4 linked regions of the Homo sapiens genome follow. Changing the gene in region 4 together with the main gene of any one other region gives a genetic interaction. Each region holds a gene or a part of one and is shown on either strand. Other genes may lie near its edges. The genes, in order: DERL2, RBM5, ODR4 and GBF1.

What was found.
Region 1: changes in GBF1 (region 4) and DERL2 together harm fitness more than expected from each alone (negative genetic interaction), as found in Homo sapiens cells (one study listed by BioGRID).
Region 2: changes in GBF1 (region 4) and RBM5 together harm fitness more than expected from each alone (negative genetic interaction), as found in Homo sapiens cells (one study listed by BioGRID).
Region 3: changes in GBF1 (region 4) and ODR4 together harm fitness more than expected from each alone (negative genetic interaction), as found in Homo sapiens cells (one study listed by BioGRID).

Annotation. Positions count from the first base shown.
Region 1 is NC_000017.11:5,470,399-5,476,379, reverse strand, and holds the end of DERL2 (derlin-2), read left to right. Parts: intron 1-1,590; coding exon 1,591-1,696; 3' UTR 1,697-5,126; downstream 5,127-5,981.
Region 2 is NC_000003.12:50,083,687-50,092,077, forward strand, and holds the start of RBM5 (RNA-binding protein 5), read left to right. Parts: upstream 1-5,232; 5' UTR 5,233-5,343; intron 5,344-6,695; 5' UTR 6,696-6,748; coding exon 6,749-6,765; intron 6,766-8,356; coding exon 8,357-8,391. UniProt on the Homo sapiens protein: Component of the spliceosome A complex. Binds to ssRNA containing the consensus sequence 5'-AGGUAA-3'. Regulates alternative splicing of a number of mRNAs.
Region 3 is NC_000001.11:186,371,206-186,378,964, forward strand, and holds the start of ODR4 (protein odr-4 homolog), read left to right. Parts: upstream 1-4,632; 5' UTR 4,633-4,769; intron 4,770-7,759. Other genes in the region: nucleoprotein TPR, read right to left, coding at 2,154-2,258, 3,673-3,823. UniProt on the Homo sapiens protein: May play a role in the trafficking of a subset of G-protein coupled receptors.
Region 4 is NC_000010.11:102,374,300-102,381,855, forward strand, and holds part of GBF1 (Golgi-specific brefeldin A-resistance guanine nucleotide exchange factor 1), read left to right. Parts: intron 1-1,059; coding exon 1,060-1,285; intron 1,286-1,972; coding exon 1,973-2,133; intron 2,134-2,260; coding exon 2,261-2,501; intron 2,502-2,635; coding exon 2,636-2,841; intron 2,842-4,984; coding exon 4,985-5,135; intron 5,136-5,221; coding exon 5,222-5,352; coding exon of another isoform or gene 5,353-5,394; exon of another isoform or gene 5,395-5,430; intron 5,431-5,553; coding exon 5,554-5,655; intron 5,656-5,949; coding exon 5,950-6,063; intron 6,064-6,206; coding exon 6,207-6,387; intron 6,388-6,827; coding exon 6,828-6,956; intron 6,957-7,556. UniProt on the Homo sapiens protein: Guanine-nucleotide exchange factor (GEF) for members of the Arf family of small GTPases involved in trafficking in the early secretory pathway; its GEF activity initiates the coating of nascent vesicles via the localized generation of activated ARFs through replacement of GDP with GTP.

The sequences.
Region 1 (5,981 bases), on a different chromosome or scaffold from region 4:
TGGTATGTTTGTTTTTATTGTTAATTTGTAAGAATTTTAAAAACTCATTTTGAATTATACTATTTTCTGACTCCAGTATAAATCAGAAGTTTTCAGATACATTTCTAATTTTATCAACTGTGGAGGATTACAAGTAGAAATATAAGTGCAAATTGAGGATGCTGCTTTAATGGTTCCTTCTTTAGTGAGGTTTTGAATTACTACATCATAGTACTTAGGGAGTCTTTTGGACATTTACTATCCCCTCCTATGTTCTGCAGTAATTTTTCTTGGGATACCTTGTTAATTTTTTAAAAATTTTGTGGTAAAATAATACCTAACATAAAATTCACCATCTTAACTCATTTTAAATGTTCAGTGGCATTAAGTATATTCATACTGTTTTGCTGCCATCACCACCATCCATAGAACTCTCTTCATCCTACAGAACTACAACTCTGTACTCATTAAACAACTCCCCACCCCAGCCATCACCATTCTATTTTCTTTCTCTGAATTTGACTACTCTGTACCTAAGTGGAATCATACAATATTTGTCCTTTTTTGTCTGGCTTATTTCTTATTTCATTTAGCGTAAAGTCCTCAAGGTTCATCCATGTTGTACCATGTGCCTGAATTTCCTTCCTTTTTTTTGAGACAGTCTTGCTCTGTCGCCCAGGCTGGAGTGCAATGGAGCAGTCTCAGCTCACTGTAACCTGTGCCTCCCAGGTTCAAGTGATTCTTCTGCCTCAGCCGCCTGAGTAGTAGCTGGGATTACAGGCATGCGCCACCACGCCAGGCTAATTTTTGTATTTTTGGTGGAGACAGGGTTTCACCATGTTGACTAGGTGCAGTGGCTCATGCCTGTAATCCCAGCATTTTGGGAAGCCGAGGCAGGCAGATCACCTGAGTTCAGGAGTTCGAGACCAGTCTGGCCAACATGATGAAAACCTTCCCTCCTAAAAATACAAAAATCAGCCGGGCGTGGTGGCGGGCGCCTGTAATCCCAGCTACTCGGGAGGCTGAGGCAGGAGAATTGCTTGAATCCGGGAGGCGGAGGTTGCAGTGAGCCGAGATCGCACCATGGCACTCCAGCCTGGGCGACAGAGTGAGACTCCCGTCTCAAAAAAAAAAAAAAAAAATTCTATTATATGTGTGTACCGTATTTTGTTTATTCACCTGTTGATGCACACTTGGGTGATACCTTGGTTATGGGGAAACATTAATGATAAATATGTGAAAGTCAGGTTACAAAACATGTAGTGTGATCTAACTTTTGTAAAATGACATAATGTAAAAATTCCCAAAGAATAACTAAAACATTGACAATAGTTACCTCTGGAAATTGAGGATATTTTGCTCATCTCTATTTCCTCCTTCTCTGTAATTATTATGATTTGGATTGCTTTTGTAGTAAAAATCAGTAAAAGATAAAAGCTAATGTAAATGTTAATAATTATAGATGCTCTTACAATATGTTAACTGTTTAATTGGCAGGCAGGTGTAATGCTTACCTATTGGTGGAAACCCTATGGGGCCTGAACTGACCTTGTAGTACTTTGGACCTGAGATGACTCTGGGACCAAATTATATCTGTTGCTTGTCTTTTAGGAAAGCTATTTTTGATACACCAGATGAGGATCCAAATTACAATCCACTACCTGAGGAACGGCCAGGAGGCTTCGCCTGGGGTGAGGGCCAGCGGCTTGGAGGTTAAAGCAGCAGTGCCAATAATGAGACCCAGCTGGGAAGGACTCGGTGATACCCACTGGGATCTTTTATCCTTTGTTGCAAAAGTGTGGACACTTTTGACAGCTTGGCAGATTTTAACTCCAGAAGCACTTTATGAAATGGTACACTGACTAATCCAGAAGACATTTCCAACAGTTTGCCAGTGGTTCCTCACTACACTGGTACTGAAAGTGTAATTTCTTAGAGCCAAAAAACTGGAGAAACAAATATCCTGCCACCTCTAACAAGTACATGAGTACTTGATTTTTATGGTATAAGGCAGAGCCTTTTCTTCCTCTTCTTGATAGATGAGGCCATGGTGTAAATGGAAGTTTCAGAGAGGACAAAATAAAACGGAATTCCATTTTTCTCTCACTGTATTAAAGCTTTTGTGTGTGATCTTTTAAATTCTGATAATGTATTGTAGCCCTCCTGCGTAGATCTGAGCTCAGAACAGTTTACACAGCTGTTCTTCCTGTGTCTTCACAACTTTTAACTGGATTTCATTTCAGGATTGGAAATACGTGGCTGTCATGCTGTGGTTGTGTACATCTTACTAACTCAGAATGCAAGATTCAGCAGGAAGATGATTTATTTCTGTCATCTGGATAGGTTGTTTTGCATCTGGGTTTTGCCAAACTTTGTCAGACAACATGAAAAAAAAGGAGGGAGGATGGTTCTTGTAGCAGTAGGAATTCAGCTATAGGAAAGTCAGCTGTAAGCTAATGTGGCATCTTATTTGCTTTACTTACATTTCTCCATTAAGAAGTATCCAGGGAAAGATTGGTAAGGGCCACATTTTTGTAAAACTAGGAAGATTTTCATTAGACTTTTTTTTTCTTTTATTTTTAAAAAAGTTTTAATTAAAAATTTTTTTTTAAATACAGATGGGGTCTCACTGTGTTGCCCAGGCTGGTCTTGAACTCCTGGACTCAAGCAATCCTCCCACCTCAGCCTCCCAAAGTGCTAGGATGACAGGCATGAGCCACCATGCCCAGCCATTTTTTTTTTTTTTGCCTTTTTTGTTTTGTTTTGTTTTTTGTTTTTTTAATTAAAAAAAAAAAATAGAGACAGGGTCTCAGATTTTCATTAGATTTGGAAACCAAGTTAGAATGTTGACTTTGGAGCCAGACGAACAGATACCAGTTAGCTAGGCATATGTTCTTCCAGGGTCTTTGGCTAGTTAACATTAGTCATTTGCTTCGTGAAAATTCAAGAACCTTTTCAGAGCCAAGTACCTGGATTACCTTCCCAATCAGGTAGAAATTAGACAGGGTCCACAGAAGTAGACACTTAATGCTGTGGTTCAATAAATACTTCCCCTAAATATTAAGTCTTCCCTGAGTCTCAGCAGGTTTGCATTCACACTGCTTAAGTAACTTCCAGAACCTGGAAGAGTCGAAAGAGCACCCCTAGGAAAGAGATGATTCCAAACAGCTTTCATTAACGGCATGTAGGCACAGGTCCCTTTCCCAAAAGTGGATTGTTAGTAGTAGTTCATTCAACCTTTGTTAAGGGGTAGCTTTCCAGAATGTGACATTGTCCTCAGAAAGATAGACATAGGCTTAAACATAATGGACATCCTAAATAGGAATTTTCAGATTGTTTTTGAAGTGAAAAGTGTTTTAATGTCTTTAAATGGAATTGCATAACTAATGGTATTTAAGTATTTTACATGTTGCTAATAACTTTGAATATGATTGTTGCAATTTTATGGAACCTGGGTCTATGGGACTGCTTTTTAAGCAGTTTAAAAAAGGTTTTCAAAGTTTAAAAGCCAATCTTAGCATGTATAATCCTTATGGGATTCTTAAGTTTTATCCTATCTTGTTTTTGCTCAAGAACGCTTTATCAGTGACGTTTGTTAGAATTTTGTTTTTTGTTTTTTTTTTTTAAATTGTTTTTGGGCTAGAAATGAGTTTCTCTAGTTTTATTTGTTCTCCCTGAGTTGGAGTTATGCAATGAATGGCATTTTTGTGGTAAAATACTAATCCTAAAATCTGTTAACTCACTGTTCATTTAAGTAGGGAATATCTGTATACATTAATGACTAGGTAAAACAGGAAATACATTTTGAATATACAGCCTAAAGGCAGGCAGTTACAGGGTTTTTGATTTCTCCGATTTTATAGGGTGCAAGTTCCCAGTGGCAGGATGCCCTGCTGTGTGACTGACTACACTGTGTCCTGAGCAGTGGTAATTTCAATCACCTCTCATCAGTTTGGCCAGCCCTACAACCACCATTCCTAGCCCTGTGTTGCTTGACAGGATACCTGTGCTTGAATGGACATAAGGAAAAGTCCTTACTTTCTCCCCAATTTACCTCTCAATCTTAGTTCTTCCAGAACACACTTCCCTTTCACAATGCAAATAAACTGAAAGTGAGATTTGATACATGGAATTTTGAGACCAACCAACTAACCTTACACATAATTTGAGGGATTCCTGGATTCTTCTAGTGATACTGAAAAGCACACTTGACTAAAGCATAGTGTTTTTTGTTTGTTATGGAAATACGGTATACGTTCATTTAAAAATAAATGGACATACAAATTGCATCTCCTTAGGAGATACATTTTATATACATTTCGGTGCGTTTTTTTCCAGTATGGATTTCTATTTGTTTCTCTCTTCCTCTTGTTTTTTCTGTGTCACTCTTGTATGTCCTCATATCTTTCATACCTCTTGTGTAGTCTCTAGAAGCAGAACACCTAAGTCCTGGGTCTGGATAATGAAACCCTCAGTCTCTGGGGCCTCTGAAAATAAGGAAGCATTGGAGCTATTGCCATGTTGAGTAATGGGCTTCCTAGAACTATTGTCATCTATCCTGCCAGTGTTTTATGTTGTAGCTGTTTTTCTTTGACAGGTGAGTTCCAGCTATGTTGTTAGTCATGATCCTGCCATTATTTTCTGTGTTCTGTAGGATGTCTCCAGGCTACTTAAACATATTTTATGAGTTTGCAATAAAATTGTTGAATCTTGTATGATCAAGTCACTCCTCTGCTCAGAAATCCACAGTGACTTCTTAGTAAGCCCCTACATTATATGCATACTTGTTTTTTTCTTAACTTTACTCCCACTTCTACCTAACAGGGACCTCAACTTAAGTCTCTTCAGTTCTTCAAGGCCTGGCCTTGTTCCTGATTCCTCAAAAAATCTTGACTCTAAGGCCTATTTTATTGTCTGTCTCTGAATCCCTATAAAGCTTCAAGTCTGTATGACATTCTTAACGCCAAATTATATATTGTCTTGTACTGTTCCTAGCTGGTACATGTATATTAGTCTTGTCTCCCTCATGAGAATGTAAGCTCCTTAAGGGCAGGGACCATGTCTTAATTTTTGTATCCACCACAGTGCCTAGCACAGTGCTTGGCACATGGGTGCTGAATAAATACCTTTGTTTATTGATCAGCAAAGTATTATCTGGTATTTTTAATTATAGAGGGATTAAAGTGTATGCATGCAAGCTTGAGCCTAGTTGCTGAAGCTTGTGGTTGTCTCTGAAAGTGGGATAGAGGGAAACTGAACATGATCAAGGGCAGTAATTTGGTGGTCGGAAAAGCAAAGGTGACCACCAGCTGTTATGGTCGTGATCAGACCAGTTAAGTCCACAGACCATCCCAGACAAGTTAAAAATGAAATGTGTCTGACACTTCGTCGTTTGAAGGAAGAACCAGGATATTCTCTGAATAGTTATTAGCTTGTCAGTATCTACATATGAAAGCTGGTGAACCCCAAGAGACTTCTTCAGGAGAAACAGCAGATTTCAGTCTACCAATGGGAGAAATGTGAGCAGCATGGCTTGATGCATATATAGGACTTAATTTTTCCACTCTTTGGTCCTCTTAGCTTTGAGGCTATAGAATAGCTGGATCATTAGGCCAGAGATTATGGATGAGTTACCTACAGATTTGTTACCTACCTATGTGCTTTGTTTTGACAGTACTTTTTTTTTTTTTAAGTTTAAACCTGTATTTAACATTGACAGATAAAAATCTTCACTTTTGGCTTTTCTTGAGAAAATTGGAAGATCTGGCAATAATAGGTCTACATGACAGCCATTGCCTAGAAATGATTAGGGGCTGCATGTAGAGGTGGAATGTGCTCCATCAAGAAATAAGTCCACCCATTTACATTACCTAAATTATTGTAATCATTTGGAACATCGGACTCCTACCTTAAGTTACTCTGGAAAGCACACTGGGAAAAAGGACTGGGATGTCTTTACTCAAAGTCCATAATTTGAGAGTTAACATTTATTATCCCTTGTA
Region 2 (8,391 bases), on a different chromosome or scaffold from region 4:
TCGCAGAGGGGGATTTGGCAGGGTCACAGGACAATTAGTGGAGGGAAGGTCAGCAGATAAACAAGTGAACAAAGGTCTCTGGTTTTCCTAGGCAGAGGACCCTGCGGCCTTCCGCAGTGTTTGTGTCCCTGGGTACTTGAGATTAGGGAGTGGTGATGACTCTTAATGAGCATGCTGCCTTCAAGCATCTGTTTAACAAAGCACATCTTGCACCGCCCTTAATCCATTCAACCCTGAGTGGATACAGCACATGTTTCAGAGAGCACAGGGTTGGGGGTAAGGTCACCGATCAACAGGATCCCAAGGCAGAAGAATTTTTCTTAGTACAGAACAAAATGAAAAGTCTCCCATGTCTACCTCTTTCTACACAGACACGGCAACCATCCGATTTCTCAATCTTTTCCCCACCTTTCCCCCCTTTCTATTCTACAAAACCGCCATTGTCATCATGGCCCGGTCTCAATGAGCTGTTGGGTACACCTCCCAGACAGGGTGGTGGCCGGGCAGAGGGGCTCCTCACTTCCCAGTAGGCGCGGCCGGGCAGAGGCGCCCCTCACCTCCCGGACGGGGCGGCTGGCCGGACGGGGGGCTGACCCCCCCCACCTCCCTCCCGGACGGGGCGGCTGGCCGGGCAGAGGGGCTCCTCACTTCCCAGTAGGGGCGGCCGGGCAGAGGCGCCCCTCACTTCCCGGAAGGGGCGGCTGGCCAGGCGGGGGGCTGACTCCCCCACCTCCCTCCCTCCCGGACGGGGCGGCTGGCCGGGCGGGGGGCTGACCCCTCCACCTCCCTCCCGGACAGGGGCGGCTGGCCGGGCAGAGGAGCTCCTCACTTCCCAGTAGGGGCGGCCGGGCAGAGGCGCCCCTCACCTCCCGGACCGGGCGGCTGGCCGGGCGGGGGGCTGACCCCCCCCACCTCCCTCCCGGACGGGGCGGCTGGCCGGGCAGAGGGGCTCCTCACTTCCCAGTAGGGGCGGCCGGGCAGAGGCGCCCCTCACCTCCCGGACGGGGCGGCTGGCCGGGCGGGGGGCTGACCCCCCCACCTCCCTCCCGGACGGGGCGGCTGGCCGGGCGGGGGGCTGACCCCCCCACCTCCCTCCCGGACGGGGCGGCTGGCCGGGCGGGGGGCTGACCCCCCCACCTCCCTCCCGGAGGGAGCGGCTGGCCGGGCAGAGAGGCTCCTCACTTCCCAGTAGGGGCGGCCGGGCAGAGGCGCCCCTCATCTGCCGGACGGGGCGGCTGGCCGGGCGGGGGGCTGACCCCCCCACCTCCCTCCCGGACGGGGCGGCTGGCCGGGCGGGGGGCTGAACCCCCCACCTCCCTCCCGGACGAGGTGGCTGCCGGGAGGAGACGCTCCTCACTTCCCAGACGGGGTGGCTGCTGGGCGGAGGGGCTCCTCACTTCTCAGACGGGGCGGCTGCCTGGCGGAGGGGCTCCTCACTTCTCAGACGGGGCGGTTGCCAGGCAGAGGGTCTCCTCACTTCTCAGACGGGGCGGCCGGGCAGAGACGCTCCTCACATCCCGGACGGGCGGCAGGGCAGAGGTGCTCCCCACATCTCAGACGATGGGCGGCCGGGCAGAGACGCTCCTCACTTCCCAGATGTGATGGCGGCCGGGAAGAGGCGCTCCTCACTTCCTAGATGGGATGGCGGCCGGGCAGAGACGCTCCTCACTTTCCAGACTGGGCAGCCAGGCAGAGGGGCTCCTCACATCCCAGACGATGGGCGGCCAGGCGGAGACGCTCCTCACTTCCCAGACGGGGTGGCGGCCGGGCAGAGGCTGCAATCTCGGCACTTTGGGAGGCCAAGGCAGGCTGCTGGGAGGTGGAGGTTGTAGCGAGCCGAGATCATGCCACTGCACTCCAGCCTGGGCACCATTGAGCACTGAGTGAACGAGACTCCGTCTGCAATCCCGGCACCTCGGGAGGCCGAGGCTGGCGGATCACTCACGGTTAGGAGCTGGAGACCAGCCCGGCCAACACAGCGAATCCCCGTCTCCACCAAAAAAATACGAAAACCAGTCAGGCGTGGCGGTGCGCACCTGCAATCGCAGGCACTCGGCAAGCTGAGGCAGGAGAATCAGGCAGGGAGGTTGCAGTGAGCCGAGATGGCAGCAGTACTGTCCAGCTTCGGCTCGGCATCAGAGGGAGACCGTGGAAAGAGAGAGAGAGGGAGACCGTGGGGAGAGGGAGAGGGAGAGGGCTAGAAAAGACAATCTTAAAGGACTATCCCTTATTGAACATATGTGGCTTTATTTAAAACAAAGAGCAACTCACTCTGATGTCTTTCTTTTTCTTACATCAGCTACCAGACAGGCCTTTGGCAGCAGAGCTCTGGAGCTCAACAGGCCAATGTCTAAAAGAAGATCAGCTACCAGAGATAATTTGGAGGATGGCACTTACCTATGGATGAAATCCATCTTTTTTTGCCAGGGACCTCTTCAAGTTTAAGAATTATTTTGCAGGCTGGGCATGGTGGCTCACGCTTGTAATCCCAGCACTTTGGGAGGTTGAGGCAGGAGGATCGCTTGAACTCAGGAGTTCGAGACCAGCCAGGGCAACATGGTGAAACTCCATCTCTACCCCAAAAATACAAAAAATTAGTTGGGCATGGTGGTGCACACCTGTGGTCTCAGCTACTCAGGAGGCTGAGGTGGGAGGATCTCTTGACCTGGATAGGTCGAGGTTGCAATGAACCGAGATCATGACATTGCACTCCAACCTGGGTGACAGAGTAAGACCCCGTCTCAAAAAAAAAAAAGATTATTTTGAGGTTTGTGAATAGCTATATAGCTTTTATGACTGGTGGTAAGCCCAGCTCAGCAAGCACCTCAGGAATATCCAAAGGTGCTTGTTGAACTGCTTTGGGGACAAGGCAGGCAACGGCTAGTGGCTATGAAGTCTAGTGAGTTCTAGATTCTTGGCATCTGCATCATCCATTGTAGGGTTTGCAGTGATGTCATCAATGTTAACTTTTAAATTTCATTAATGCATGTACTCTTTTCTGATATTTTGCATATATGCTTCCCCATAAATTGTATATATTTCCTCTCTAAATACACACACACCACATATATTATATTTCTACCTTTTCGTCTATATATGTATTGTGTATATACCTATATATAGATATATACACTGACATCCCTCCACTTATTCTTGAAAGATTTGTTTTCCAGAGAGAGAAGAAAATGGTATAGGCACAGTTTTCTGTAACTGATGTATAACTTTCTGTAACTAATGGTATAGGCACAGTTTTCAATTTGTATGACCTGAAAAATCAGTTCTGGCTGGGTGCGGTGGCTCATGCCTGTAATCCTAGCACTTTGGGAGGCTGAGGCAGGTGGATCACCTGAGGTCAGGAGTTCGAAACCAGCCTGGTCAACATGGTGAAACCCCATCTCTACTAAAAATACAAAAATTAGCTGGGTGTGGTGGCGGGTGCCTGTAATCCCAGCTGTTTGGGAGGCTGAGGCAGGAGAATCACTTGAACCTGGGAGGCAGAGTTTGCAGTGAGTTGAAACTGTGCCATTGCACTCCAGCCTGGGCAACAGGAGCAAAACTCCATCTCAAACAAACAAACAAACAAAAATGTTTGCAAAGCATCTAGGGCAATAATATAGCATCTAGTAAAGCGATCAACTAATGTTCCTCATTTTAATTTATTTTTTATTTTTATTTTTTTTTGAGATAGAGTCTTGCTGTGTTGCACAAGCTGGAGTGCGGTAGAGCAATCTCGGCTCACTGCAACCTCCGCCTCTTGGGTTCAAGCGATTCTCCTACCTCAGCCTCCCAAGTAGCTGGGATTATAGGTGTGCGCCACCACACCCAGCTAATTTTTGTATTTTTAGTAGAGACGGGGTTTAGCCATGTTGGCCAGGCTGGTCTCGAACTCCTGAGCTCAGCTGATCCACCTGCCTCGGCCTCCCACAGTGCTTGGATTACAGGCATGAGCCATCATGCCTGGCCCCTCCTTTTTATTTATTTATTTATTATTATTATTATTATTATTATTATTATTATTATTATTATTATTTTGAGACTGAGTCTTGCTCTGTCACCCAGGCTGGAGTGCAGTGGCACGATCTCAGCTCACTGCAACCTCTGCCTCCCTGGTTCAAGTGATTCTCCTGCCTCAGCCTCCCTAGTAGCTGGAACTACAGGTGCATGCCACCATGCCCGGCTAATTTTTGTATTTTTAGTAGAGACGCGGTTTCACCATATTGGTCAGGCTGGTCTTGAGCTCCTGACCTCGTGATCCACTTGCCTCGGCCTCCCAAAGTGCTGGGATTACAGGCGTGAGCCACTGCGTCCAGCCTTTTTTTTTTTTTTTTTTGAAACAGAGTCTCACTCTGTTGCCCAGGCTGGAGTGCAGTGGCGCAATCTCGGCTCACTGCAAGCTCCGCCTCCCGGGTTCACACCATTCTCCTGCCTCAGCCGCCCAAGTAGCTGGGACTACAGGCGCCCGCCACCATGCCCAGCTAATTTTTTTGTATTTTTAGTAGAGACGGGATTTCACCGTGTTAGCCAGGATGGTCTCGATCTCCTGACCTTGTGATCCGCCCGCCTTGGCCTCCCAAAGTGCTGGGATTACAGGAGTGAGCCACCGCGCCCAGCACCGGCCTCCTTTTTATTTTTTAGCGACAGTTTCTCGCATTGTCCCCAGGCTGGAGTGCTGTGACGAGATCACAGCTCACTGCAGCCTCGACCTCTTGGGCCCAAGCGAACCTCTCACCTCAGCTCCTGAGTAGCTGGGACAAGAGGTGCACGCCACCATGCTCAGTTAATTTTATTTTTTGTAGAGATAGGATCTCACTGTGTTTCCCAGGCTGGTCTCGAACTCCTGGCCTCAAGCGATCCTCCTGCCTCGGCCTCCCAAAATGCTGGCTTGTGAGTGAGCCACCACTTCACGCACGGTCTCCTTTTGAAGTAGAATTAGACAATGTTTTACACCGTGCCAGTGAAAGCAAACTGTACTCTCTACGGCGCTAGTAGCAAAAGCAAAGAATTATTAACATGCCTAATAGGAGCCCTAAAAACTAATCCAGGTCTGCAAAAGCCGATCGACAACTCTGTAGTGATTTAGAAGAGAATTGCAAGACATTAACACAGAGCGTCCTAAGTGACAGGATGGTCTGGCGACCACATTTCCCGGCAGCCCTCGCACAGCCAGGCCGCTTCGAGGATTGGACTTCTCCGCAGGAGGCGGGTGACAGGGGGAGGGGATAAGCGTGAGGTACTGTGGGTAGGAGACGGCCGTCGGCGGAGGCGCCATTTTGTGTAGCCGCCGAACCTTGTTGGAGGTTCTGGGGCGCAGAACCGCTACTGCTGCTTCGGTCTCTCCTTGGGGTAAGTGCGGCGGCTGTCTGTAACGACGGTAGGTTCTTGCCATTTGGGCTGGCCCCCAAGCCTCCCTTGTCAGCTGCCGGAGGCGACTGATCAGCTCCAGCCGGTTCTGTAGAGGGGCTAAATTACCCCAGGCGTTGGAGGGCCGCGCCCTTCCTTGTTGCCAGCTCTGTCAGTTTCCAGAGGGTGTCCAGCCAGCTCAGCCTTGGGCCTGCTTCTTTCTGGCTGTGACTTTGCCCCTTGTGGATACACGTCCCCTAATCTTCAGCCCAACGGAGCAGTGGAGCCGTCGCCTGTCCCTCGGGCACTCCTTGGGAGCTCCCTGGCAGTCTCTGGCCGCCATCCCCCGCTCAACTGCAACTGAATCGCCCTCTCCGAAAAGCTGTTCGGTGATCGCCCATCTGCGGGTTTGGAACCTCTTGGGAGGCGGGAGGGGCATGTGCGGGGAGGGCAGGCCGGACGCTGGAGTCGGTCGAGCAGGCCGTGACGCCGCCATCTCGGCCGCGAGACCCCACGGAGGTGGGTGCCGGCACCGCCCGGGAGACAAGGGGCGGCACCAGTGAATATGCCCCGGGACTTGTTTCCCCCCAGTGGTTCTTTTTCATTTATTAATTTCAACAAATCGTTGAGCATTCGCTCTAGACTAGGCTTCCAGAGACTACTGGAACTGATTTTTCGGACCTCGCGCTCATCGAACGCGGTCCAGCAGTGTGATGTCTTATTACCAACGGGGGGCGGGGGGCCGGGCTGTTCACTACTCAGTGGTTTGTAGTCATAAGAACTGGCTCAAGACGTGGTGGTTATTGTTACCTAGGAATTAGGTCGTTTCTAGCTTTGCTCTTGTCTTATGCGATACGTTATTAATGTAGTAGATTTCAGTCAGCTCAGTATCCCAGCTTCTACGAGGTTTTACATTTTTCATCAGAAGTGTTTGAATTTCATGTTGCTCCTTGTATTAATGAAGACACTTGGATTAATGTTTTAACGGTCAACTATCCCACGGAGTTGCTTTGATACAAAACCAAGGAGCTGATTGTAGCTCTGCCCTTTTTGCTTTGTAATTCTAAGGTAGGAGCAGGGAAGGAGTCTTCTGCTTGCTCCGTATTATGATTCTGTTAAATCTGGAATCTAATATTTTAAAATATGCTTAATCTTCCGGTTTTGCTCATTGTTAACAAAATGTTAGCACGATTTTAACGTTGACAGTTTGTCCCCACCACTTCCCCACCTTAGATAATCACTGTCAATGATTTGAAGGTTTGATGAAATCCCAGCCTCAGTAGTATCCAAGCTATGGAGCTGCTGACTTAAGTGATCTCTGAGATTTATAGCAATTAATCTCTCTTGTCTCCTAGAAAAAATAAAATTTGAACCTTTTGGAGCTGTGTGCTAAATCTTCAGTGGGACAATGGGTTCAGACAAAAGGTAAGTTACTACAGTACGTGGCTTTGATCTCAACATTTCAGTGGGGACTGAACTCCTTGTTTAAAATAGTTTATCAAACTAATATATGAGTGTTTTGCGCCAGGCATTGCTAACGAACACCTTTATGATCCTGTTGTCACAAACTACAGTCTAGTGAGAGAATTAAAGTACTGTGTGAACATGCTGTGATAAAGTGTAGGGTGCTCTTAGAACACATAGGAAGTATGTCTTTTTCTTGTTCACAGCCAGGAAAGCTTCCTGGAGAAAATATTCTCTGGAAGGAAGCTGAAGGATAAGAAAGAATTTTAGGCAAAGAAGGGCAGGGTAGAGTGGGTCACTGAAGGTTCCCTGTGTGGACAGCAACCTTTGCAGAATCCAGGAGATCATACAGTCTGGCACTTAGCACAGTTCCTGGCTGTGGTAAGCAATCAATGAATGCCATTTCTTGTTATTGTTCCCTGAATAGCAAGATGATCCAGACTTAGAGAGCTGAGAAGCTTGGGACTGTGTGTTACATGAAGAAAGAAAGAGCCAAAGAATTAGTGGAAAATTAAGATGAGAGCATTTGGCTATTGTGTCACCTATGGGTACATGCTCTCAGACCATTTGATTTAAACACACACCCTTATTCAGCCATCTGCCTTTTTAGTATTGAGGTCAGTCCCTGTGGTAGATCACATTGACAGGCTGAGGGACCTTAGGAGATGTTCATGTCACATGGTATTTTAATGCTGTGTCAGCAGTCTGTGGTTCTAAATAGCTTACTAAATTAACATTTACCCCTTTGGGGTGTCTCAGTCCCATATTTCCTTTGATTCTTTTTATTAAATTTGTATATTCTAAATGAAGCCCTTATAAACCTTTCCTTTGCCTTATGATTGCACAGCAGTTTTATGAATCTGGTAAACAGTTTACAAAAGGTGTATTTTATCTGTGGTCAAATAGGTTTAAGCCTCTTGTTATTAGGTTTTCCCATGAAGCCCAGTGCTGCCCTTTAGCCAAAAATAAACCAGATGTTATAAGAAGAGTGTTCTCTTAAGGGGTGCTAGTTTTGGGTAACTATCCAGTTGTATCTGACAGACAACTAAGTTGCCTGATGGGGAAAAAAAAGACTAACTTAGTTCATCCAGGTTTTTGGTCCATTTTCCAGTAGGCATGATACCCTTGAGAGTAGATGAGCCAGGGATGTACTTAATTTCACCCTTTAAAATTGGGTGAAATTCGAGTAACTGCTTTCTTCCTGTTTTTGGTCACTAAGATCTGAATCAGGGATGAAGGGATAATATGTAGACTCTAGGCTTGACAAAATGCAAAAATAAACTTGGACAACATGACTCTTTCTTAGAAATATTCAACCCAAATGTTTATTTCAGATTTAGCATACATTCCTGAGAATTATCATTACATTTAGGGATGTAGGTATTTTCCCAGTGGTTATCTTAGTAAACTGGAATTTGGTAATACTTTTTAACACTTTAAACTATTTGGATTATCTTATAAACTGATCTGTGGGCCGTGTGTATTTTTAACTATGTCTTTTAAAGGTACAAAATGTGACTGACTTTAGAATGAAAATTATTTTCCCTGGCAGAGTGAGTAGAACAGAGCGTAGTGGAAGATACGGTT
Region 3 (7,759 bases), on a different chromosome or scaffold from region 4:
TTACTGTGTTCTAGACCAAAATTTTAAATATGCTATCCTGTCTCCAAATCAAATGTATAATAATCCTAGCCAACATTTATGGGGAAAGTCACATGCAATTAGTAATTCCTTTATTTTTCAGTGCCATCTTCTAAGTCAACATATATCATAAGAAACAGTGAACTGTACTTAGCAGTAAGAAAATGGAGTTAAAAAGACAGGATCAAGAGAGAAAAAGCATTTAAACTATATAACATGTATATACAGCAAATCACAATAATGAATATTTGCAATTCCTATCATTTATCACTCTAAATAGAGCCTTTAAAGAAAAAACATTATGCTTGATAACGCACTTATCAATCTCTCAATTGCCACTCAAAATGGGCTCTTTTCCCTTACATGCAGTTTCTCTTCTAAACATAGGCTAACTAGAAAAAATATAATTTTTAAAATTTTTCCAAAAATATACATTTTGAAACTGTATTTCACTAAAATACATATGTTGGCAATTTAATAAGCAAATACATTTTAATTAATTCTAATCTTAACTTCTATTTAAAGAGGACCATTAAAGCAAAAAAATCCCCATTAAATGTGTCTAAATTTTCTATTTTGTTTTAATATTATTTACTGCTTTCCAGACTTACTGATCCAGAGTATATAAATACACACACACGCGCGCACACATTAACTGTATACCACAGGAAGGTATCTGATGTATCTGTAGGTTCATCCCTTTTTCTCTTCTCCCAGATCTCGTAAAAGCTGTATTCAGTCATTTTTCTCAAATTCCTCGGCACTACTACTAAACAGATCTTTTTATTATGGCTAGGCAAAACTACATAGATAATGAACCAGATCTAGCTATATATGCTCCATCACACATGTATGCATATACATTACGTTTTTAAAATGAGGTGTACCAAAAGTAGCTGAAAAAAGTTATAACCTAAATAGTTGATGGTCATGGACCCATTAAGAAGGAAAGCTGCAATTTTAATCATTTGATTATGAACTTCCTGTGTTCCTTCTCCATCAATCAAATTAAAATTGAACTATATTAAGTATCAATTAATTATACCAGCCAGACACAGTGGCAATCCCAGCACTTTGGGACGCCGAGGCGGGAGAATCGCTCGAGGCCAGGAGTTCAAGACCAGCCTGGCCAACATGGCGAACCACTGTATCTACTAAAAATACAAAAATTAGCTGGGCCTGGTGGTACATGCCTGTAATTCCAGCTACTCAGGAGGCTGAGGCGCAAGAATCGCTTGAACCCAAGAGGCAGAGGTTGCAGAGAGCCAAGATTGCACCACTGCATTCCAGCCTGGGCAACACAGTGAGACTCTGTCTCCAAAAAAAAAGGAAAAAAAAAATTAATTACACCTTTATAGAGATCTTTCCTAATGTTCTGATGTTTGCTTTCTTAAAGCAGAAGCAGTCTACAGCCAGACCACCCTGAAGGCACCCCATCTCGTCTGATCTCGGAAGCTAAGCAGGGTGGGGCCTGGTCAGAACTTGGATGGGAAAAGCAAAGCACAAGACATATCATCCTCCTAAGAAATGTCAGGATCTTTAACATCTTGTGAACTTTCTAAAACTTAATGATGTAAGAAAAGTAAGAAAGAGATTAGCTATCAATCTTTTATAGGAATTAGGCCTTAAAGGGGAAATATCCTGAGATTCATAGATATTTATAAAAATTATTAAAAAATGGAGTTAAAACATAAATATAATGAAATCAATAGGCTTCGATTCTTCAACATAAAAACAAGCCACTCTCTACTTCTTTAGTTGCATAATGCTTTCACCTTTTTAAAAAGATTTCAAGAACTCTTATCTCATTTGATTTACAAAGCTGTCTAGGTAGACAGACATGTGGGTCTAACCATTTTATAAACAATAATCAGATACTGTTAAGATTTACATGTGGCAAAAGCAATTTTAATAGCAAAATCAGAATAAGAATCCAGACCTCCTGACCATTAAATTCTGTGTTCTCACAAAATCTTTACCACTAAGTGAAAAATCAAAATATCACCATAATAAAAACCAATGATGCTTAATCAATATTTTCATGTTTAGTAAGCAAATGTTTCCAAAGTATATAAAGGAGTCTCTGAAGATTTCGATACTCCGAGAATACTTACAAAGATGAATTAAATACTTACTGAGTTTCTCTAGCTCAAGCCGCAAGCTTTGACACTCTCGGGTTTCATTCACAAGTCTCTCCTGACTGTGGGACAACCTCTTTTCTATTTCAAAATACTGTTGTTCTACAGCAGACAAGCAAAAAACAAAAAACAAAATCAAACACATGTACATACATTGTGAATACTGTTATTTATTTCTAATAACCTTGATTTTAAAACTTAAGATACAGTATTAGAATTGTGCTCCACATAAGAGAATCTGAGTAAAGATAAATAGACTGAGCACTGAAAAGGACTTAAAGCATTTCCAAACGACTTACATGACAAAAAATAAAAAATAAAAATAAGGCCTAAAAGGGGCTTTACAAATCAATGTCTTCAAGGCAGGTAACCTCATTTATCTTAGTATTTTCTCCAGACATCAGTAAACTGCTTAATAAATAAAGTATTTATTACACGAGAAAAAATTGTTTAGACAAAAAAAAACTCCTTTGTTTTAAAAGACTTCTTTTATAGTAGTCAAGATATTACCTGAAAGCATAAAACTACTAAATATATGTAAAAGTAAATGTGTAAACTTTCCAAGGGAAGGGATTGAATATCATGTTCAGCATAGTATCAGGAACATGTAAGACATTCAATATTTATGGTGCAAATTAATAAATAGAATGCAATGTACTATACTCAGCTCTGGGATCAGAGAACTAATTTTCAAGGTCAATTCTGCTTGACAGTTACACTTTTTTTGAAGTAAAAACTTGTTCAGAATTTCCAGTCAACTTAGCAAGAACAGTATGAACCTCCCCAAACAAATGGTAAACCAAAACACATTAACGGGAAGTTTGTATTTTACTAATGGTAATGACTATATTCTTCATATTTTTTTCAAGGATGTTCAAGCCATTATTGTCAGTAACTTTCTTACTTAAAGGCCTACTTTAGGTAATTACAAGAAAATTTTAATGTTTTCTATCAAACTCCAACTTTTTAAGAGAAATCAAGATATATTAAATTTATGTACTGCACATTCACTGTGTTTCCAGCGCTCTTATGCACCTAATATTCATTTTTGTAAACATCTGATTCGTTCTGGAGCCACGGGACGACGCACACACTAAGAACAAGTGCACAGAGTGGTCAATTTGGCAAAGGCCTAGAATGCAGGTGCCTAGAAAATAGGGCGGAGCCACTATCAGTTGAAGTGCAACAAAACATATAAGGTACTCTAGGCTTAGAGAGATGGGTTCGCAGACTCTATCAAGTCTGTTTCCCGTCTGCCGGACGAAGGAAAATAAGCGTCCCTGTATGAGCCTACCCTAACTACAAAGAAAATGCTACTGAACTTAGATTCAGATTTTTTTTTCAAAGGCTTCTTATCAAACTGTAAGGAGCAGGAAAGCGAAGGCTCAGGATATCCACAGAGCCCAGGAAGTGAGGTTAACAGAGCGGTACCCAGTGCCAACTTGATGGGGGAAGACCAGACCCAAAGGGCGGGAGTCGAGCCCAAAACCAAGGACGGAAAGAGCATCTCACTTACCGCTCTCCACCTTAAATTTCTCATGCCGCCCCTTCAGGCCATCGATCTCGGATTGCTGATCAGCAAGGAACTTTTCAAGTTTGTTCTGGACAGACTTGGGCAGCTTGTTCAGCTCCGTGCGCTCCAGGACTTGCTGCAACACCGCCGCCATGTCGGTGGGGCCAGGGACCCCAGTGGCAGCGGCCGACGGGGTAGAAGCGGAGAAGAAAGGCGAAGACCAGCAGGACCCAGACGCCTGGGCCGCCGCCTCTATCACCTCGCTCGGTGGCTCGCGCGCGCCCGCCCGCCGGAGACTCCCGCGGCGGGACCCTGGGAAATCGAGTCCACCCTCAGCGGCAGCGTTTCAGCAACAGCACCTCACCGCCCGCGACCGAAGTGCGCGCGCAGCCGTTGGAAGCTACGAACCCTGGGAACCCGAGCTCAGAGGCTATCCCTGATCCTCTTGCGCACCCAATTTTCCGGCTTCCAGCTCCACCCACTTCAGGCCTTGTAGGGCTCTGGGAAATGTAGTGTTTTTCTCATTCTTTTCCGGGAGCCCAATGCTGCACCGCCCTCTCAGCTTCCGTTTTTCTCCCCGCTCCCCTGGCTCTCCTATCTCGGCCCCGTAACCGCTGTCCGCACGGTGGCGCCACATACGTACTCGTCACCCCTTGGCCCTCCCTGAAGAGCTGGTGACCTTACCGTCAAAGCCCCGGGATGCCATGGATCGTCCTCGTTGGCGGCTTCTGGACACTGAGCCACTAGAGGGCATCGGTCCCGGTAGGGCCGGACGGCAGGCTCCGGGATACCGCCACGCTCTCTATGGCGCCCAGAAGGGGGCGGGGTGGCGACCGCAGTCGCTTTGGCTGAGGCTCTGCGGGGAAGGGAGGGGGGGCTTTTACGTCATCAATCTGCGCCACCTGACTCCCAAGTCCCTGGCTTTGGAGTGGGAAGTGAGGTGTGGGAAGTAGGTCGCTTTCTGATGAATTCAGTGGCAGTGAATTGAGACCGGAGGGAATCTGGCCCCTAGAGGCTGGTACTTGGGCCCGAAACCCCCATCTCCGGCGGAGAGACCGTCCGAGGTAATTGTCTGCCACGAGTGCACATTCTGAAAACAGGTAAGTCAGCCTAAGTGTAGTGTGTGTGTGTGTGTGTGTGTGTGTGTGCTCTCTTTTCAAGAGAAAAAGGAAGGGACAGTGTTGGAACCATATGGACAGTCACTCCGGCACACACTTCTGACGAACTTACCTTGTGTGAAACGGCGTACCTAAATGGTTTTTGGTGGTGGGGAGGTGGCACTGAGTGATTCAGTACCCGGGAATTTAAGGACCCGGGTTAATTCTTCAGGAGGAGAATTAAAAGAAACCGGTAGCACTTTGAGTGTAGCCTATGTTTTAAATTTTTCGTTGCAGAAACGGTTACCTAACATTATATTGTTTTTAAAATTGAAAACTGTTGTAACTGAAGTTTTTAAACACATTGTTAATTTCTACAGTAACAGAACTTGTATGGTTCCAGATCATAATTCTGTAGTTTTAAAGCTCAATCCGTAGATTGTTTCGTGTTTACTCTTATGAAAGAATTTGTTAAATTATTCATTGTAAATAATGCATTCCCAGTGTCGTCTCTCTGCAGTTCCCACAGTCGTGGGCCTTCTGTGAATTGGTGATTTAGTTCTTATATGAAATTTATTCTTTTTCTCTAGTTCTTACTTTTGAATCATGTTGTGAAGCCGTCTAAGAAATATAAATGGAAGCATTTTATGATATTTTGTAATAACTAAGGAAAAATAAATCAACAGCGGAGCTTAAGGTTGATTTTTCCCCAAAAATATTTTTTAGATAAGCATTGTAATTAAAGTTGCTGGTATATGAAGTATTATGCTATGTCCTAAGCCCACAGTATTATCATACTGTTGATCTGTCATTTGGGAAATGTAGATTTTTCTGTACTTAGATTCACAGAATCCTAAAATTAGATAGGTTTTCAGATCTGCTAGGATTCAAATGCTTTATTTTATAGATTAGGAAACCAGAGCCCAGAAAGGTTGAGTTGTGTCAGTCACAGTGCTTGGACCACAAAGGCTTTGGCTGATATACAACATTTCTGGAAAATTATGACCCTATAAGGCAAAATACAGTTGTCCCTTGGTATCCGTGGGGCATTGGTTCCAGGACCCTCTCACCTGCCCACCCCATGGATATGAAATCCATGGATGCTCCAGTTCCTTATATTAAATGGTGTAGCATTTGCATATCTTAAATCATCTCTAAGTTACTTATAATACCTAATACAATGTAAATGCTATAGTTGTTATATTATATTGTTTAGGGAATAGTGACAAGAAAAAACATCTTTAATGATACAGATGTAATCATGCTTTAAAAAAATAATTTTTCAATCTGTGGTTGGTTGAATACATGGAAGTGGAAACCACAGATGTGGAAAGCTGACTATATACATTTTTAGTACTGCCTTTTATAAAGTATGGTTGACTACATTTAAAAATTTTGAAAGAGCACTAAAGAAAAATTTATCTGACATTCAATCAGATTTCATAATTGAATAGATTTTCATCTCCCTATTACATTCAGTTTCTTACACATTAATATGGCTACTAGGTGACACCCTAGAAGAAATAAGGTTAAAAGGTTAAATATAACTTTAGAATTACTTGTATTTGTTGCAAGAATTAAGAATTATTAGACCAGAAGGAAAAGGAGTATAATATGATATAGAGGAAAGTAGATACATAGAATTGCATACCTTAAGGCATTACTAAAAGGTAAAAGCCCTTAACTTCACAGAGGCAACAGTGATATTTAGACAAGCATTCCTAGACTTAGTCTCTAAAAAATGATATGCAAATCTGATTCACGTCTATTGTTGTCAAAAAAGAGCTAGGAAGGCCAGGCATGGTGACTCACACCTGTAATCCCAGCACTTTGGGAGGCCAAGGCAGGCAGATCACACGGTCAGGAGATCGAGACTATCCTGGCTAACACGGTGAAACCCCGTCTCTACTAAAAATACAAAAAATTAGCCGAGTGTGGTGGCGGGTGCCTGTAGTCCCAGCTACTTGGGAGGCTGAGGCAGGAGAATGGCGTGAACCTGGGAGGTGGAGCTTGCATTGAGCCGAGATCGCGCCACTGCACTCCAGCCTGGGCAACAGAGCAAGACTCCATCTCAAAAAACAAAAAAAAAAAAGAGCCAGGAAGAAATTAATGTATTTTGAGACAAAACTGAACAAGCTCATTGAAACAATAAGGAAACAGCCTCCAGTAGGACATTTCAGACTTGAATCCATTCTCTGGGCTTTAGTTTTAAAATGCAAAACCGTTTTGTGACTGACAGTTTACTGGTATCAGATATACCACCCCAGCATATCTCTGGTAGCCTTAACTTTGTGGTACTGAATAAGATTCACATTTTTAACAGAATCCAAATGATGATGATTCCTAAATTGCAGTGTTCAAAATACTGTAACTGTGTTCCTGCAGTCTCTGTTTGTTTTATAGCTCTTTTGGATATCATCTCTTTTACATTTTCATCCTCACTGATTATGAACTCCTTGATTTAATCATTCATTATATTGCCTAGCTCTTTTATTCAATATCTTTGGTTTTAAGCTATAGAAATGCAAATCAAAGGAGCATAAGCCAATAGAGGGAATGAATATACTGACTTCCATCCACAGACCAGAGGGAAAACAGAGTAAGAGCTACCCGTAGTAATGATTTAATTGAAGGACTGGTTACGATTCCTCATTATGAGCGTGGTGTTGAAAAACATGGATTCTAGAGCCAGAGTGTCTGAATTTAAGTCCCTCCTTTGCCACTTACCCAGCTTTGTCACTTTGGCAAGTTATTTAATCAACTTTTCTCATTTCAGTTTCTTCATCTATAAAATGAGGATTATAATAATGGTACCCACTTCCTGGGGTTTTATGAATTATTAATGTTACATGGAAAGTACTTACAATAATGCGTTGTACAAAGTAGAAGCTATATGTTGTTATTGTATTGCTATTTATCTACTTAAATAACTCTTACTGTAGTATGTATTGCTCAAGGACAGAGATTGTGTTGCTCATCTTTGTGTTATCCCA
Region 4 (7,556 bases):
AGATCCTGCCTGCACTCTAGCCTGGGCAACAGAGTAAGACTCCATCTCAAAAAAAAAAAGAATTTGAAGACAGATTGCTAAGGATTAGGGATGGGGGCAGGAAGGAGGAGGTGGGTGTGGTTATAAAAGGGCAACATGAGCTGGGCATGGTGGTGCATGCCTGTAGTTCCAGCTACTCTGGAGGCTGAGACAGGAGGATCACTTGCGCCCAGGAGTTTGAGGCTGCTGTGAGCTATGATCATACCACTGCACTCCAGCCTGGGTGACAGAGCAAAACCTGTCTCTAAAAAAAGAAAAAGGCAACATGAGGGATACTGTTGTGGTGGAACTGTTCAGTATGTTGTTTTGTGGTGGATACCCAAACCTACACAGGTAATAAAATTGTATAGAAATTAATACACACAAAAATGCAAGTAAAACAGGAAATCTGAATAAGATCAGATAGTATCTTGATTATGATATTATACTATAGTTTTGCATAATGTTACCATTGGGATAAACTGGGCAAAGTGTATAAGGGACCTTTTTGTATTATTTCTTTACAACTGCATATGAGCCTATAATTTTCTCAATAAAAATTTGTATTTGAGGCTGGGTGCAGTGGCTCATGCCTATAATCCCAGCACTTCAGGAGGCTGAGACGGGAAGATCGCTTGAGCCTGGGAGTTCAAGACCAGCCTGGGCAACATAGCGAGACCCCATCTTTCCAAAAAAGAAAAAAAAAATTAGCCAGGTGTGGTCACATGCACCTGTAGTCCCAGCTACTCCAGAGACTGAGGCAGGAGGATCACTTGAGCCCAGGAGTTTCAGGTTGCAGTGAGCTGTGATTGTGCTACTGTGCTCCAGCCTGGGAGACAGACCAAGACCCTGTCTCAAATAATATAATTAATATATTTCTATTTGAAAAAAAAAAAAAAGACCAGAGCAGTATCCTAAATTGGGTCCTAGCCAAACTGTCTTCACTGGCCTAAGGAGACTGGTGGGAAAGAAAACTAGACAGGAAGCTGTGTGCCCACACAGCTCCCCGCTTCCCCGCTCCCTGCCCTAACCCCACTCCAGGTGCTGCTCTCCCTGCGCATTTTGCTACTGATGAAGCCCAGTGTGCTATCCCGAGTCAGCCACCAGGTTGCGTATGGGCTCCATGAACTCCTGAAGACCAATGCAGCCAACATCCACTCAGGTGATGACTGGGCCACACTCTTCACACTGCTGGAGTGCATCGGCTCAGGTGTGAAGCCTCCAGCTGCTCTGCAGGCCACAGCCAGGGCAGATGCACCTGATGCCGGTAAGCCCTTTCCCAGGGAGACTCAGGCTGGCAGATAAACAGTTACACCCCAGGAGTTGGGACAGGAAAACAAAACACAGGTTACTGTGTTCAGCAGATTAAACAGCCCTGGCTCCTGCCATCACTTCCAGAGCTTCCAGTGCCCGCTGGCTAGTACCCATAAGTTAAATAGCATGAGGGCAAATAAGCAATGCAGACGGCTGTGAAGCCAGGCTTCCTACTGTCCTGAGGACTGATTTGTCCTGAGGACTGTTTCCCAGTTTCTGTTTCTGAGCTGTCCCGAGGACTGTTTTCCCAGAATTCTGGGAAAATAGAATTCTGTGAGCAGACTTTATATCACTAAATCGATACATCACTAAATCCCAGAAACTGGGAAAACAGTCCTCAGGACAGTGGAAAGCCTGGCTTCATAGCCTTCTGCATTGCTTATTTGTCCTTGCCACCACTCCCTAGAGTGGTGCTACAGCTGCCACTAGATGCCATCAGGAACCCAGATTAGCCTGCCACCTTATTTGGTCAACAGAGAAACTGTTCCGGCCATCCTTTGGCCCTCTGGTGACAGAAATTAAACTATGCCAGAGAGAGGGGAGGCCAGGCCTCAGCATCTTTTTTCTGAGAGCCTGATTTATCCCTCATCCCAGTGCCCCATCCCCACCCTGACTCTGCCCTTCTCCCTGCCTACCATAGGGGCCCAGTCAGATAGTGAGCTCCCATCCTACCATCAGAATGACGTGAGCCTGGATCGAGGGTACACTTCCGACTCAGAGGTCTACACTGACCATGGCAGGCCGGGCAAGATACACCGATCAGCCACAGATGCCGATGTGGTCAACAGTGGTTGGTTAGTGGTGAGTGACAATATGGGCAGCAATTGAGTCTCTCCTGCTTGACCTGTGGGAAGAATTCCTGGTCCTCTGCAAGGACATTCACACAGGGGCCAAGCCTGTGTCCCCAGCTCCTCTGTGTACTTTACAGGTTGGGAAGGATGACGTTGATAACTCCAAGCCAGGGCCCAGCCGCCCAGGCCCTTCACCCCTGATCAATCAATACAGCCTAACAGTGGGACTGGATTTGGGGCCACACGACACTAAGTCTCTGCTTAAGTGTGTGGAATCGCTGTCCTTCATTGTGCGTGATGCTGCCCACATCACACCTGACAACTTTGAGCTCTGCGTCAAGACTCTCCGGATCTTTGTGGAGGCCAGTCTGAATGGCGGTGGGTCAGCTGATGAGGGGGCAGCTGGGGAGTAGCCATGCAATTATGCAGGGGAGAGGCTGAGAGGGGAGAAAAGGCAGGGTATCTATGCCTATATAGACACAGAAATGTGACCTGAGTCTGGCTCTGCTCAGGATGCAAGTCCCAGGAGAAACGTGGCAAGAGTCACAAATATGACAGCAAAGGGAACCGCTTCAAGAAGAAATCCAAAGAGGGATCAATGCTTCGCCGGCCTCGAACCTCCAGCCAACATGCCTCTCGGGGCGGGCAGAGTGATGATGATGAGGACGAAGGCGTGCCTGCCAGCTACCATACGGTGTCTTTACAGGTCAGTCAGGACGTAAGTATGGCACCCTTTACTTCCTCTCCTCCCCTGCACCTGATACTGGGAGCCTGGGGCGGCCAGGGAAAGCCAGGGCTGAGGGGAAGGGCCCATGTGTGCCAGCCCAGGCCCTGGACCACCATCTTCACAATATTCCCTTACCCAAAACCTTACCTGTAAGTCTTTATTTGCTTAAATTTATTTATTTATTTATTTTTATTTTTATTTATTTATTTATTTATTTATTTTTTGAGATGTAGTCTCTCTGTCACCCAGGCTGGAGTGCAGTGGCGTGATCTCGGCTCACTGCAACCTCCACCTCCCGGGTTCAAGCGATTCTCCTGCCTCAGCCTTCCAAGTAGCTAGGACTACAGGCGCGTGCCACCATGCCTGGCTAATTTTTTGTATTTTTAGTAGAAACGGGGTTTCACCATGTTGGCCAGGATGGCCTTGATCTCCTGACCTCGTGATCCGCCTGCCTCGGCCTCTCAAAGTGCTAGGATTACAGGCATGAGCCACCACACCTGGCCTTTAAATTTATTTTTAAACTAAGATTTACTTATTTTTTGAGTAGGTTCAAAATATACAAAAGGGTAAACTGATAAAACTAAGTTTCCAATCCATTCCTGTCCCCAGCTTCTGAGTTCCCCTCACTAGAGGCAGCCACTGTCACCAGTTTCTTGTCTATCCTTCCAGAGTTACCCTGTGTCTATTCAAAGGCATATAAAATTAATTATGTGAGCAGAGTTTATATCACTAAATTGATGGAGAACCAATTGCCTTAAATAGAATAACCATACAAAAATGACAAAAGTGGCTGGGCTTGGTGGCTCCTGCCTGTAATCCCAGCACTTTGGGAGGCCGAGGCGGGTGGATCATGAGGTCAGGAGATGGAGACCACCCTGGCTAACACGGTGAAACCCCGTCTCTACTAAAAATAGAAAAAATAGCTGTGCATGGTGGCAGGCGCCTGTAGTCCCAGCTACTCGGGAGGCTGAGACAGGAGAATGGCGTGAACCCGGGAGGCAGAGCTTGCAGTGAGCCGAGATTATGCCACTGCACTCCAGCCTGGGCGACAGAGCAAGACTCCATCTCAAAAAAAAAAAAAAGAAAGAAAAGAAAAATAACGAAAGTAAAAATGTATTAAATCTGGCCAGACACTATTGCCCAATCAAAGCCTCTGAGCCTGAGGTTTTCTGTTTTAAAAATGAGATTAACAGCCAGGTACAGTGGCTCACACCTGTAATTCCAGCACTTTGGGAGGCTGAGGCGGGAGGATCACTTGAGGCCAGGAGTTCGAGACCAGCCTGGGAAAAATAGCGAGACCCTGCCTCTACAAAAATAAAAATGCAAAAATTATCTGGGCATGGTGGCACACATTGTAGTCCCAGCTACTGGGGAGGCTGAGTAGCTGAGTAGGTGGGAGGATTTCTTGAGCCTAGGAGATCCAGGAGGCAGTGAGCCATGATGGTGCCATGCACTCCAGTTTTGCACAGAGCAAGACCCTGTCTCAAAAAATAAAATAAGAAATAAAATTAGGCCGGGCATGGTATAATCACACCTGTAATCCTAAAACTTTGGGAGGACTATTGCTTGGGCCCAGGAGCTCAAGATCAGCCTGGGCAACATGGCAAAACCCCATCTCTACAAAAATACAAAAAATTAGCTGGCTGTGGCAGCGCACAGCTGTAGTTCCATCTACTCATAAGGCTGAGGTGGGAGGATCACCTGAGCCCAGGAGTTCGAGGCTGCAGCGAGCCGTGATTGTGCCACTGCACTCCAGCCTGGGTGACAGAGTGAGACCCTGCCTCAAAAAATAAAATTAAATTAACAACATGAGGCTTTCTCTGTCATCAGCAGGTGTGAAATAGAATTGAAAAGAAAGTATCTTTCTCACTGTGAGTAAGGATTGTGAAATACTCAGTCCACACACCTCCTAAGGCTCTCTCTCTCATGAGTAATCTCTGACTTGGAGAGTCCTTTACAAGGACTGGAACAACCAGGAAGTCAAGTCAAGGGAAAGAGTAGCGAGGGGGTGAGGTATGGCATGATTGGTGCTAGGGACACCTTGAGGACTTAGTTAGGGACAGTGAGTGGGGAGGGGGAAAGGGATCCACGAGACCTAACCCCACTCACATCCTGCCCCCTCCTGTGATCCTAGTTGCTAGACCTGATGCACACCCTGCACACGCGGGCAGCCTCTATCTACAGCTCATGGGCGGAGGAGCAACGCCACCTGGAGACAGGTGGCCAGAAGATTGAAGCTGATTCTCGCACCCTCTGGGCCCACTGCTGGTGCCCTTTACTGCAGGGTAAACCAGGAGGGGCAGAGGTAGGGAGTTTGGGGAGCATCAGGATCAAGATGCCTGAAGGATCCTGACCCTGCTCTTGCTCTCAGGTATTGCCTGCCTGTGCTGCGATGCCCGGCGCCAGGTACGGATGCAGGCACTGACCTATCTGCAGCGAGCACTACTTGTACATGATCTGCAAAAGCTAGATGCCCTGGAATGGGAGTCCTGTTTTAACAAGGTGGGACTTCCTACTGGTCTTAAGATAAAGTTCAAATCCTAAGAAAAGGAAAGCCAGGCAGCCTGAAGAGCCCCTAATGTGAGTCTTCAGCCTGCATCATACCTTCCCTTCAGCTCTATGCCCATCCAGTTCCTGGCTTCCTTGGGGCAAGGCTGCCTAGCTGAACCTCATAGGGAGACATTGCACATTTACCCCCACCAGGTGCTGTTTCCTCTACTTACCAAGCTCTTGGAGAACATCAGCCCTGCAGATGTGGGTGGGATGGAGGAGACCCGGATGAGGGCTTCCACATTGCTCTCTAAGGTACTGCTCACCACCCTATACCCACCCTCTCTCCCATACCTGCCTTTTCCCGAGGAGGGAAGCCAGGGCTTCTGGCAGGACCTAGAGATGCACTGTAGGTGCTCACAACCCCCCAGCTATGGACACTAAGCAGGACCTAGGGACCTGAGAGGATTCTGAATCTTAAATCAGAGATTCCTCCATCTCTGATCTAAGATTCTCATGCAAGATAGGACAGGCTTAGCTACCCAGCCTCAGAGAGGGGTCCAGAGGCTCCTACAGTCCCCTCAGCTGAAGGGGGCTGGTGGGCCATAGGTCTTCCTGCAGCACCTGTCTCCACTGCTGTCACTCTCTACCTTTGCGGCCCTCTGGCTCACCATCTTGGACTTCATGGACAAGTACATGCACGCAGGCTCCAGCGACTTACTGGTATGTTCTACCTCAGCTCTGCTGCCTGCCTCCTGTCCCACCTGTTGGAAGGACTTGCCCTTTCCCCCTTGGTAGCTACCTCCCTTTACCATACTCCCCCCATGCCCTCTTTCCTATTCTCATGGTCCCACTGCCACCTGCAGTCAGAGGCGATCCCTGAGTCTCTGAAGAACATGCTTCTGGTGATGGACACAGCGGAGATTTTCCACAGTGCAGATGCACGGGGAGGCGGCCCCTCGGCCCTCTGGGAGATCACCTGGGAACGCATTGACTGTTTTCTCCCTCACCTACGAGATGAACTCTTCAAGCAGACCGTCATCCAGGGTAGGGGGCTCAGCCCAGCTTTATCAAAAAGAGTCTCCTGCCTGGGCACAATGGCTCACACCTCTAATCCCAGCACTTTGAGAGGCCGAGGTGGGTGGATCACCCGAGGGCAGGAATTTGAGACCAGCCTGACCAACATAGTGAAACCCCATGTCTACGAAAAATACAAAAATTAGCCAGGTGTGGCGGTGGGTGCCTGTAGTCCCAGCTACTCAGGAGGCTGAAACAGGAGAATCACTTGAACCCGGGAAGTGGAGGTTGCAGTGAGCCGAGATCACAGCCTGAGTGACAGAACGAGATTCCATCTCAAAAAAAAAAAGTCCCCAAAGCTGAATTTATTGTCTGTGCCCTGGGTGGGTAGAAAGGCTGTTGGGTAGCTAGGGCTCTGCTGGAGAGAGAAAGCACTAAGAGGTGCCATCTCAATTCTCTACCGTCTCCAGACCCCATGCCCATGGAGCCTCAAGGCCAAAAGCCTCTCGCCTCAGCCCACCTGACTTCCGCTGCTGGCGACACTAGGACACCTGGCCATCCACCGCCCCCAGAGATTCCATCTGAGCTGGGGGCCTGTGGTGAGTCTCTCTAGCCTAGCCTGATAGGCACTGAGTAGCAAGCAGGGGGCCTAAGAGGAGGCCCAAGGGGGCGTGGGAATGCTGCTGAGCAGGGTCTGTGAGCCGAGGGAAGAAGGCCACTAGAGAGAACTGTTGCCGCTCTTCCCATGGGAAATGACAGGACCATAAGCTATGAGGAACTAGCTGCTTGCAGTCTTCAGGCTTGGGAAGAGAAGGCTGGGTCAGGGACTTGGAATGAATTTGCAGAGGTTTCCTTTCAGGGATTCTAGTAGAGAGTAACCTGGCGGCCAGGCGCAGTGGCTCATACCTGTAATCCCAGCACTTTGGGAGGCTGAGGCAGGTAGATCACCTGAGGTCAGGAGTTTGAAACCAGCCTGGCCAACATGGTGAAACCCCGCCTGTACCAAAAAAATATAAAAATTAGCTGGGCGTGGTAGTGCACACCTATAATCCCAGCTACTGGGGAGGCTGAGGTGGAAGGATCGCTTGAACCCGGGAGGCAGAGGTTGCAGTGAGCTGAGATCATGCCACTGCACTCCAACCTGGGTGATAGTGAGACCCTGTCGCGAAAAAAAAAAAAAAAAAAAAAAAAAAGAGTAG